Homo sapiens: one gene and its partner. The protein of the gene in region 1 interacts with the protein of each later gene in a biochemical or structural test. Each region holds a gene or a part of one and is shown in the gene's direction. Other genes may lie near its edges.

The links. The genes of interacting proteins can lie anywhere in the genome.
Region 2: the proteins of FBLN2 (region 1) and NID1 form a complex in vitro, tested with the Homo sapiens proteins (one study listed by BioGRID).

What each region holds. Positions count from the first base shown.
Region 1 is NC_000003.12:13,636,078-13,638,904, forward strand, and holds the end of FBLN2 (fibulin-2 isoform a precursor), read left to right. Parts: intron 1-367; coding exon 368-491; intron 492-1,484; coding exon 1,485-1,842; 3' UTR 1,843-2,327; downstream 2,328-2,827. UniProt on the Homo sapiens protein: Its binding to fibronectin and some other ligands is calcium dependent. May act as an adapter that mediates the interaction between FBN1 and ELN.
Region 2 is NC_000001.11:236,041,045-236,048,091, reverse strand, and holds part of NID1 (nidogen-1 precursor), read left to right. Parts: intron 1-2,408; coding exon 2,409-2,635; intron 2,636-5,799; coding exon 5,800-6,182; intron 6,183-7,047. UniProt on the Homo sapiens protein: Sulfated glycoprotein widely distributed in basement membranes and tightly associated with laminin. Also binds to collagen IV and perlecan. It probably has a role in cell-extracellular matrix interactions.

The sequences.
Region 1 (2,827 bases):
GGGTCAGGCTATTGGGGCAGCCCAAGGATGTCCAGCAGGACTGTGGCCTCTGTGGAAGAGAAGGAGCTTAGAGAGGCCAGAGAGCCTTGCACTGTGTGGCTTGGCATCCAGGGGAGGGAGCTGGGCTTTATTCTGGAGCGCGAGAAGCCTTGGGAGGGCATGACATGAGGTGATTGACACTTTAGAGCCAGGCCCCCTGCTGCGGGGTGCCGAGCAGGTGAGATGGGGCATGTGTGTGCAGGGAGGCACGCGGGCTATTCTCACAGGTCCGGCTGCCGTGGGGCCCAGGCCTTTCATGCAGGCTGGGGAGTTTCAGGCTGGGTCCCCCAGCTGTGGGGACCCTGCCATTGCCCCTCTTCTCCCCCAGACGTGGATGAGTGTGCACTGGGTACCCACAACTGTTCCGAGGCTGAGACCTGCCACAACATCCAGGGTAGCTTCCGCTGCCTGCGCTTCGAGTGTCCTCCCAACTATGTCCAAGTCTCCAAAACGTGAGTGTCCCCACCCCAGTCCCAGTCCCAGGGAGCCTGTCCTGGTCCTGTACTATCCAGGGAGAGGCTGAGAGATGGGCGCCTGCCTTGATCACCTCCCTCTCGTCCCAGCCCCTGACTGCTGGGTCTGTGGGCTAGGTGACCAAAACAAATATAAGTAGCTTTTAGAGAGTTCAGGGTTGAGAGAAGGAAGGGGAAAAGACACACAGAAAACACCAGCCCTCTTCCTCATACACACACATGGTAGTTACTGCTGTGTGACCAGTTATCCCAACCAACATTTAGCACCAGAATACAACAGATACTTACTCTTTGTCACGCAGTGTCTGAGGGCTAGGAGCCTGGGAGTGGTGTAGCTAGGTGGTCTGGCTCAGGATCTCAGGGGCTGCCTGTCCGGGGTGCGGGATCCTGCCACTGCTCATGGGGCTCTGGGCAGGAGGCCTCAGCTCCGCATCACATGAGCCCCTCCACAAGGCTGCTTGTGACATGCCACTCCCCAGCTCAGTGTATCAGAAGTGCCAGCGGCAGCCCCTTAACCTCACTTAACCTCAGAACTGACAGACCGCTACTCTGCCACCAGCCACACGGCCCGGCACTTGGGAGGGACCCTGGGAGGGACACTGGGTGCACTGGGAAGAAGGGAGAAGGAGGAGGAAGGGAAGGGGAGAGGGAAAAGGAAGGAGAAAGGAAGAATGGGAGGATGGCAGGAGGGAGGAAGAAAGGAGCATGGGGACAGGTAAGAGCTGTTAACGAGCCTGGCCAGTGCCATGCTAAACTCACCCATTCCAGTGAGCCGGTGAAGGTTTTATTAACCTCATCTCGCAGGCAAGGAAACTGAGACCCAGGGGACGTAAGGGGACTTGCCTGAGGCTTCCCGGCCATTAGGGAGAGAGCTGGCCCTTGATCCTGCCGCTGAGCTGTGCCATCTGTGTCCCCGTCTGGGGATGAGGGGGGTGGGCGAGCTGTGGGTGACCCGGCCTATCCTCCCTGCAGGAAGTGCGAGCGCACCACGTGCCATGACTTCCTGGAGTGCCAGAACTCGCCAGCGCGCATCACGCACTACCAGCTCAACTTCCAGACGGGCCTCCTGGTGCCTGCGCATATCTTCCGCATTGGCCCCGCGCCAGCCTTCACGGGGGACACCATCGCCCTGAACATCATCAAGGGCAATGAGGAGGGCTACTTTGGCACGCGCAGGCTCAATGCCTACACGGGTGTGGTCTACCTGCAGCGGGCCGTGCTGGAGCCCCGGGACTTTGCCCTGGACGTGGAGATGAAGCTCTGGAGGCAGGGCTCCGTCACCACCTTCCTGGCCAAGATGCACATCTTCTTCACCACCTTTGCCCTGTGAGGTGCCAGCACGGGCCACCTGCGGGTGTGGCGCAGCCCAGGGCTCACACTGCGTGGGAGGGACTGGGTCACTATTGTGGTTTTTACTATAACTTTGTAAATTAACTTAATTTTGCTGACTTGACTCCTGTGGCTTCTGGACCCCTCCTCTGCCCCGCAGGAGGAAGTTCCACGGCAGGTGGTGCGTTCCCACGCAGGCACCAAGTGGAAGCTTGCACGGTGGGCCACGGCCGTGGCGGGTGCCCTGTGGGTGAGGCTGGGTGATGACCTGAGGACCAGAGACACGCGACCATGTTGGGGCTCTTGGACTCCTCTGGATGACCCGTCCCCAAAGTTGACATTCCATTTCATGTTCCACTGTGATTAATTCTTTTCTTTTTTAAAAAATCATTTTAAAGTTTTTTGTTTAACTATAAAGTAGTACATGTACATTATATAAAAAAAAGTTCAACTAGTATGAAAGGGTTATAAAGTAACAGAGGAAAACGCCTCTTGGTCCCTTTACTTTTGTAAAGTGTTCAGAGTTTGACAACGTTGTCCAGATGTCACAGGGCTCTATGGCCTGGCCAGCATGTCAATTCATTGATGAAGACCTTGATGTCCTTCTCAACGAGCCCCGAACCTGAAGTTCACTTTGGGATGAGGGCACCCCAGTGTGATCAGTCACTGACCAGGCTCTTTATTCTGCTTTTACCACTTCAGCTTTCCCTCCTCCTTCCTCCTCCCTCCTCCCTCCTCTGCCTTCCCCCCATGAAGACCTCCACTGATGGCCTGTCACTTGGATGTTGTCCAGAACTTGTCCTGGCCCCTGTTGCTGAGCTGTCAGGTCAGGCAGTAGACCTGGGCAGGAGCCTGAAGGAACCTGGGAAACTGAGGCCCTGAGAGCGGAAGCGATGTGCCCCCAGCCCACAGCGAGCATCAGAGCAGGTGTCGGGACCCAGCTCTGATGACCCTGCTCGGGCTCCGTGGGTCTAGAGTTAAATATA
Region 2 (7,047 bases), on another chromosome or scaffold:
AAAGTGCTGGGATTACAGGCGTGAGCCACCATGCCCGGCCTTTTTTTTTTTTTTTTTTTTTTTTTTGAGATGGAGTCTTGCTCTGTTGCCCAGGCTGGAGTACAGTGGCACAATCTCAGCTCTCTGCAGCCTCCACCTCCCAGGTTCAAGCAATTATTGTGCCTCAGCCTCCCGAGTAGCTGGGATTACAGGCATGGGCCACCACACTGGCTAATTTTTGTATTTTTAGTAGAGATGGGGTTTCACCACATTGGCCAGGCTGGTCTCCAACTGCTGACCTCAAATGATCCACCCACCTCAGCCTCCCAAAGTGCTGGGATTACAGGTGTGTGCCACCGAGCCCGGCTGGAAGGATAGTTTCTGACTAGAGAAATTATTAATATGAAACGATAGGTTAAAATAACAAAGTACTCCTGAGGGATGCAAAGATAGAAAGGTAAAGCCCAGACTCTAGTTGGGGAGACAAGAATCATTTGGACCATGTGAGTGGTTCAAAACCCAAGTATTGTCATAACCCAGGGTTGGCCTCTCCGTGGGCGCAGTCATCAGGGACGGCTGGAAGGACCAGGCTGTAGAGCACGGACTTGCCCTTGAAGGAAGCAGGGTCTTTGAGTAGGTCAGGAACTCGTTGTTAGACCTGAAGTGACTTTTTAGGACAGGCCTCGATTTTCCCTTGGAAAAATAATTTCTCTCTACCATAACTTCACCTTTATAGGAAAATGAGGAAGAAAGAAACTTGAAGGGTCCCAAAGCACTTCATATAAATGGGAGGTATTTCAGGCTGGTGGTTCCTAAAGTGTGTACCACAAAACACCAGTCCTACAAGATACACCTTGAGGAAAAGGCCTTCTAGTTTGGGAAATGCTAAAACTATATCTCCCTCTTGGTGATTCACCCTGTTCACTCTGAAAAGTCCTGCAGTCAGGAAACTTGCAACTTGCCTAATACTACTTTTTTTGTTTTTGTTTTTGTTTTTGTTTTGAGACAGAGTCTTGCTCTGTCACCCAGGCTGGAGTGCAGTGGTGCCATCTTGGCTCATTGCAATCTCCACCTCCTGGGTTCAAGTGATTCTCCTGCCTCAGCCTCCCAGGTAGCTGGGACTAAGGGCGTGAGCCACCATTCCAGCCTTGCCGAATATTGTTTAACTGAGCAGTCTCCAAACCTGTGACCATACCTCTTCCCTTCCCCCGCTCCAAAAAAGATGCATTACATCCCACAGAGCACACTTTGGGAAAGTCTGTTAGGGGCCTGCATGACACATTTTGCTTGCCAACTGTTATCTGTCTGAGTGCCAAACTTGAAAACAGCTTAAATGTTAAGTGTCTCAGCTGCCTCCCTTTCACTTGGGTGATAAATGCCTAACCCATTGGTATGGATCCCTTGCTTGCCTCTTGGGCCTAATCTGTTCCACCTCCGCATACCCTTTGCAGCCGCTATACCAAATTACATGTAATTCCCTGACCTTGCCCTTGCTCTTTTTTTTTTATCCGCAGTATCTTGCACAGGCTGTCCTCTCTGTTTGGGACGTCCTCTCCCTGACCCCCCTACAGGTGGCAGCTTCCTCCTGCTTGTTCATTCAGACTGGGCCCTCCCGTGAGGCCTTGACCAACCACAGCCTCCTGGCATGGGATGCACTCCCACCGCTCCTGGCATGGGACGCTTCCTCTTACGGCTCCTGCAGCGCTTTGCAAATGTTTCGATTACAGAATCCAACCTCAGGTTTTGCAATGTTTTCTTCACATGTCAGCCTTCCCAAAGTGCTGGGATTACAGGCATGAGCCACCGCGCCCGGCATGTGCCTGCTCTTTCATACGTGACCTCATGTAGTCTTCCTCATTTCTGTGAAGGAGGTGGTTTTATCTCCATTTTACAGATGCAAACATCGAGGCTTAGGGAACTCAAGTATCACGCCCAAGTCACATAATAATGAGTAGAGCAAAGATTTGGATCCAGGTCTGTTTTCTCCCAAATCTCATGTTTTGTTTTGTTTTTTCTACTGTACGGTGCTTGGGTTCAATAAATGTTTGTTAAACGATGAATGCGGTTGAATATGTTAACAGCCATGGAAACAAAGTCTTTGGGTAAGAATTTCCTAAACTGCGTGAGATTTTAGGCCACCATCTGGAGGTACCATCTGTATAATTTTTGGTTAACCTTAGGGCCACAGTTATGCAGAAGATATTTATGAATTAATCAGAAAATGTCATGTTGACATAGCCTTAGGGATATTTCAGTGGAACTATCCCAGAATCCTAGGTTCTTGCTACAAAAGTCCTTCTTTTAGAATAAGGTGAGAATATTGCCATCGCTCTATAGCACTGTACGCTTTATAGATAGTCTGGCGAATAACACATTTTAAAATCTATCGATATTTTTCCGAGTAACTGAATTTTAACTCATCTTCACAGAGAAACACGTTCCAGGCTGTTCTAGCCTCCTCTGATTCCAGCTCCTATGCCATTTTCCTTTATCCTGAGGATGGTCTGCAGTTCCATACGACATTCTCAAAGAAGGAAAACAACCAAGTTCCTGCCGTGGTTGCATTCAGTCAAGGTTCAGTGGGATTCTTATGGAAGAGCAACGGAGCTTATAACATATTTGCTAATGACAGGGAATCAGTTGAAAATTTGGCCAAGTATGCTTTCTTTGTTCTTCAGTAGATTCTCCTCTTAATATTTTTTAATGTGGATAATGTAATGTGTATTATAGATCATTACCTAAAAATGTTCCTATGGATTTAAGTTTTGCATATAGTTTTTATATTATGAGATACTCTTTTTCTGATGAACTTAAGGAAATGTATTTTTAGAATGAACAGATATCCTATTTTTTAGATATCATCCTCATTTAAAATAGTTCTTTTTTTTTTTTTTTTTTTTTTTTTTGAGACAGAGCCTTACTCTGTTGCCCAAGCTGGAAGGCTGGAGTGCAATGGCACAATCTCGACTCACTGCAACCTCTGCCTCCCAGGTTCAAGTGATTCTCTCGCCTCAGCTTCCCAAGTAGCTGGGATTACAGGTGTGTGCCACCATGCCCAGCTAATTCTTGTATTTTTAGTAGAGACGGGGTTTCACCATGTTGGCCAGGCTGGTCTTGAACTCCTGCCCTCGGGTGATCTGCCCACCTCAGCCTCCCAAAGTGCTGGGATTACAGGCATGAAGTGCCGCGCCCGGCCTTAAGACAGTTTTTACCATTTTGTCTATAAACACTGTTAGAAATAAGGGTTATTCAAACCTATCTCCTTTGATCTCAAGGCTGAGAAAACCTTTTCCTTCACATTGACTAGGGGGAATATTCTTACAACAGAAATGGTGCTCTCAGGTTATGTTGTAGAATTTGACAAAAGAGGGAAAAGCCCAAATTGGATTTTGAAGATTAAAACCTTTCCTCTCCCATTATTCTTTAAAAACCAAGAGTGAATCCCCTAAAACCACCTTTTAATTTTATATCTTCAAATCTAGCTTGAATTCCTCTGCCCTTCACTTAGTGATGTGCTGGTAAATGCTTAACAACTGGTTTTATGAGGGCAGAGGAACCTGATTTATAGCGTTTGCCTGTTTCTGTGATGTAAATACTCCTACGATGGCCAAGTTCAAGTTATTAACGTCATGTCACTCATTGAAGAGTTCAGAAAACATGCACCATTATATATATTCTCACCATAAAGATAAAATAGGTTTAATATATATAATTTCAAGAGCATGGACAGTAGCAAAAGGATTAGAATATGATGAGTTTTGAATATTTTTTCCTTTTAAAAAATATAACTTGTTTAATTGGAAGTTCATGTAATTTAATTGTTTAGAATGGCTGTGTTTAATAACTGGCTTGCAAAATTCCTAAAACTTTAACAGCCAGCTCTCACAAGCTAGTCCATATAAGCTCCCACACACCACTGTCTTTACTTGAATCCCAGGCAGACAAATTGATTAGACATCCTATTTATGCAGGACTTTTGTGATTTATCATCCCCACCCCACCCCATTGTTTTGCTCAGTATTTTCCACTGAGTAATGTATGTCCCCTCTGTCCACCGTATAATATAATTATTTCATGTAATTTCTGATAGGAGCACTTCCAATCACAGACACAGAAGAATGGTAAAAATGGTGGAGGAAGAAGTAGAGATTAGGGATATTCTACTATATTTTATAGTTATAAAATGCTTTTGGATTTTGTATCTCATTTGCTTTTCACCATATCCTTTAAGCACCAAAGGTAAACTGAGACTAGTCCAAGATCTCACAGCCAATGGAGTTGGGATTTCTTTTTTTGTTGTTTTTGTTGTTGTTTTGAGATGGAGTCTTGCTCTGTCGCCCAGGCTGGAGTGCAGTGGCACGATCTTGGCTCACTGCAAGCTCTGCCTCCCGGGTTCACGCCATTCTCCTGCTTCAGCGTCCCGAGCAGCTGGGACTACAGGCGCCCACCACCACGCCCAGCTAATTTTTTGTATTTTTAGTAGAGACGGGGTTTCACCATGTTAGCCAGGATGGTCTCGATCTCCTGACCTCATGATCTGCCCTCCTCAGCCCCCCAAAGTGCTGGGATTACAGGTGTGAGCCACCGCGCCCGGCCCTGGAGTTGGGATTTCTAAAAAACCACGTCTGCAATGTTTTCACTCACACTTCTGACACCAAATGGGTGGGGTTTTTTTTCCCACACCAACCAATTCTCTGCACACCAGCCGGGTGTCCTACACTTCAGTTCAATTCTAGCACTGGCGTTACTGCAGACCCCACAGGTTAAGGGCTCAGTCCCACAGGACTGCCCCCACTTCAGATGCCAGTCCCAAGTCCTGTGTTTCCACCTGTACTTCTGACCAACCAGCTATAAATGGAGGGTTTCCATGGCATGCTCCTCAGATTTGATAATTTGCTAGAATGGCTCACATAACACAGAAAAATGCTTCACTATTACCAGTTCATTCTAAAGGATACAACTCTGGAACAACCAAATGGAAGAGAGGCATAGGACAAGGTATGGGTAAGGGGGCAGGGTTTCTATGCCGTCTCTGAGTACACCAGCCTTCCCGCACCTTGATGTGTTCAACCCAGAAGCTCTCTGAACCCCATCATTTTAGGGTTTTTATGGTGGTGTTATTTCATAGGCACAGTTGATTAAATCACTGATCCTTGGTGATTGACTCAATCTCCAGCCCATCTCCCCTCCCTGGAGGCAGTGGGGAAAGCTGGACATTCCAACCTTCTAATCATGCCTTGGTCTTTCTGGCCACCAGCCCCCATCCTGAAACTGTCTAGGAGCTCCCAGCCATCAGTCAACTCATTAGCCTACAAAAGACACTCTTATCACTTCAGAAATTCCAAAGGCTGTAGGAGCTCTTGTTTCAGAATGTGAGGACAGAGACCAAACATGTATTTTCAATTGTATCATACCATGTCATGGAAAGAGATAGTGGAGAGCATGAATGACTTCAGTCCTAAAGCCACTGTCAGTCCTATGAGCCACCTTAGCTCATAAGGTAGAGCATGTAACCAGCAATTAGGATGAGCAAGTTGAATTTTAAGTCCTGATAGTGTCCCTGGAGCACACTTCTGGAATGGCTGGGACTGAGCTTGTGCTAGTATTGTGCCCATTTGGACACAGTCTCACCAGACAGCCCTAGACTGCCTCAGCCACATGACGCCCAGACATGACGGCCAGTGCCCTTCCACTCTCCAGTCCTAGCTGCAGGTGATGGCTTGCAGACCAACACAGATCCTCAGGGCTCCCTCTGCTTGGGTAGTGGTGGCTGTTGGTGGGTTGCTGGCCTGTTTCTAAGAAGCCTGTCCTTCCTCCTAGGAGTAGTAACTCTGGGCAGCAGGGTGTCTGGGTGTTTGAGATTGGGAGTCCAGCCACCACCAATGGCGTGGTGCCTGCAGACGTGATCCTCGGAACTGAAGATGGGGCAGAGTATGATGATGAGGATGAAGATTATGACCTGGCGACCACTCGTCTGGGCCTGGAGGATGTGGGCACCACGCCCTTCTCCTACAAGGCTCTGAGAAGGGGAGGTGCTGACACATACAGTGTGCCCAGCGTCCTCTCCCCGCGCCGGGCAGCTACCGAAAGGCCCCTTGGACCTCCCACAGAGAGAACCAGGTCTTTCCAGTTGGCAGTGGAGACTTTTCACCAGCAGCACCCTCAGGTCATAGATGTGGATGAAGTTGAGGAAACAGGAGTTGGTAAGACCATTTAAGTTGCAGTTGGTAACGATCTTGGATGTGTGGGCTTCCAGACAGGCGTACTGCTGGGGAGATGTCAGTTGTGAGCATTACATGGTGGTTTGTAAAGATAAGAGCTTGGGAAAGTAGAGGCTGAACTCTCACAGCCGTGGAGCCTTGGTGTTATATGCCCAGTGGCTTCAGAGATGCTCAGTGATCTTTTGGGATTAGGACCATGGTTTTGGAGACTGTTGAGTGTGTCTTCTTTCAAGTTTCCTAGTATTCCGTTCTGTCTGTTTTAAAGAGAAAACGTCCGTTAGAATTGTTTTGAAAGTCAGATTTTCTTGTGATTTCTCAGATCAGAAATGTATTCATCCACCTGAAAAAACATTTTAGAAGTTCTTTTGGCTGTCTATGAAGCTTATCTTTGACATTTATTTCCTCTTGGTTTTGGAATTAGAATTGTTGATTATTTTTCTTCCCAGGTCCCGTCAGTTTCAGAGTTGGTTTGTGAAGATTAAAAAATATATATATATCAAAGTAGATACTCTTTAAAAAAAAATAGGGTCGGGGGTGGTGGCTCACACCTGTAATCCCAGCACTTTGGGAGGCCGAGGCAGGTGGATCACAAGCTCAAGAGATTGAGACCATCCTGGCCAACATGGTGAAACCCCATCTCTACTAAAAATACAAAAATTAGCTGGGCGTGGTGACACACGCCTGTAGTCCTAGCTACTTGGGAGGCTGAGGCAGGAGGATTGCTTGAACCTGGGAGGCAGAGGTTGCAGTGAGCCGAGATCATGCCACTGCACTCCAGCCTGGCAACAGAGTGAGTCTCTGCCTCGAAAAGAAAAAAAAAGTTTTACAGTACATTTTCTGGTCAACT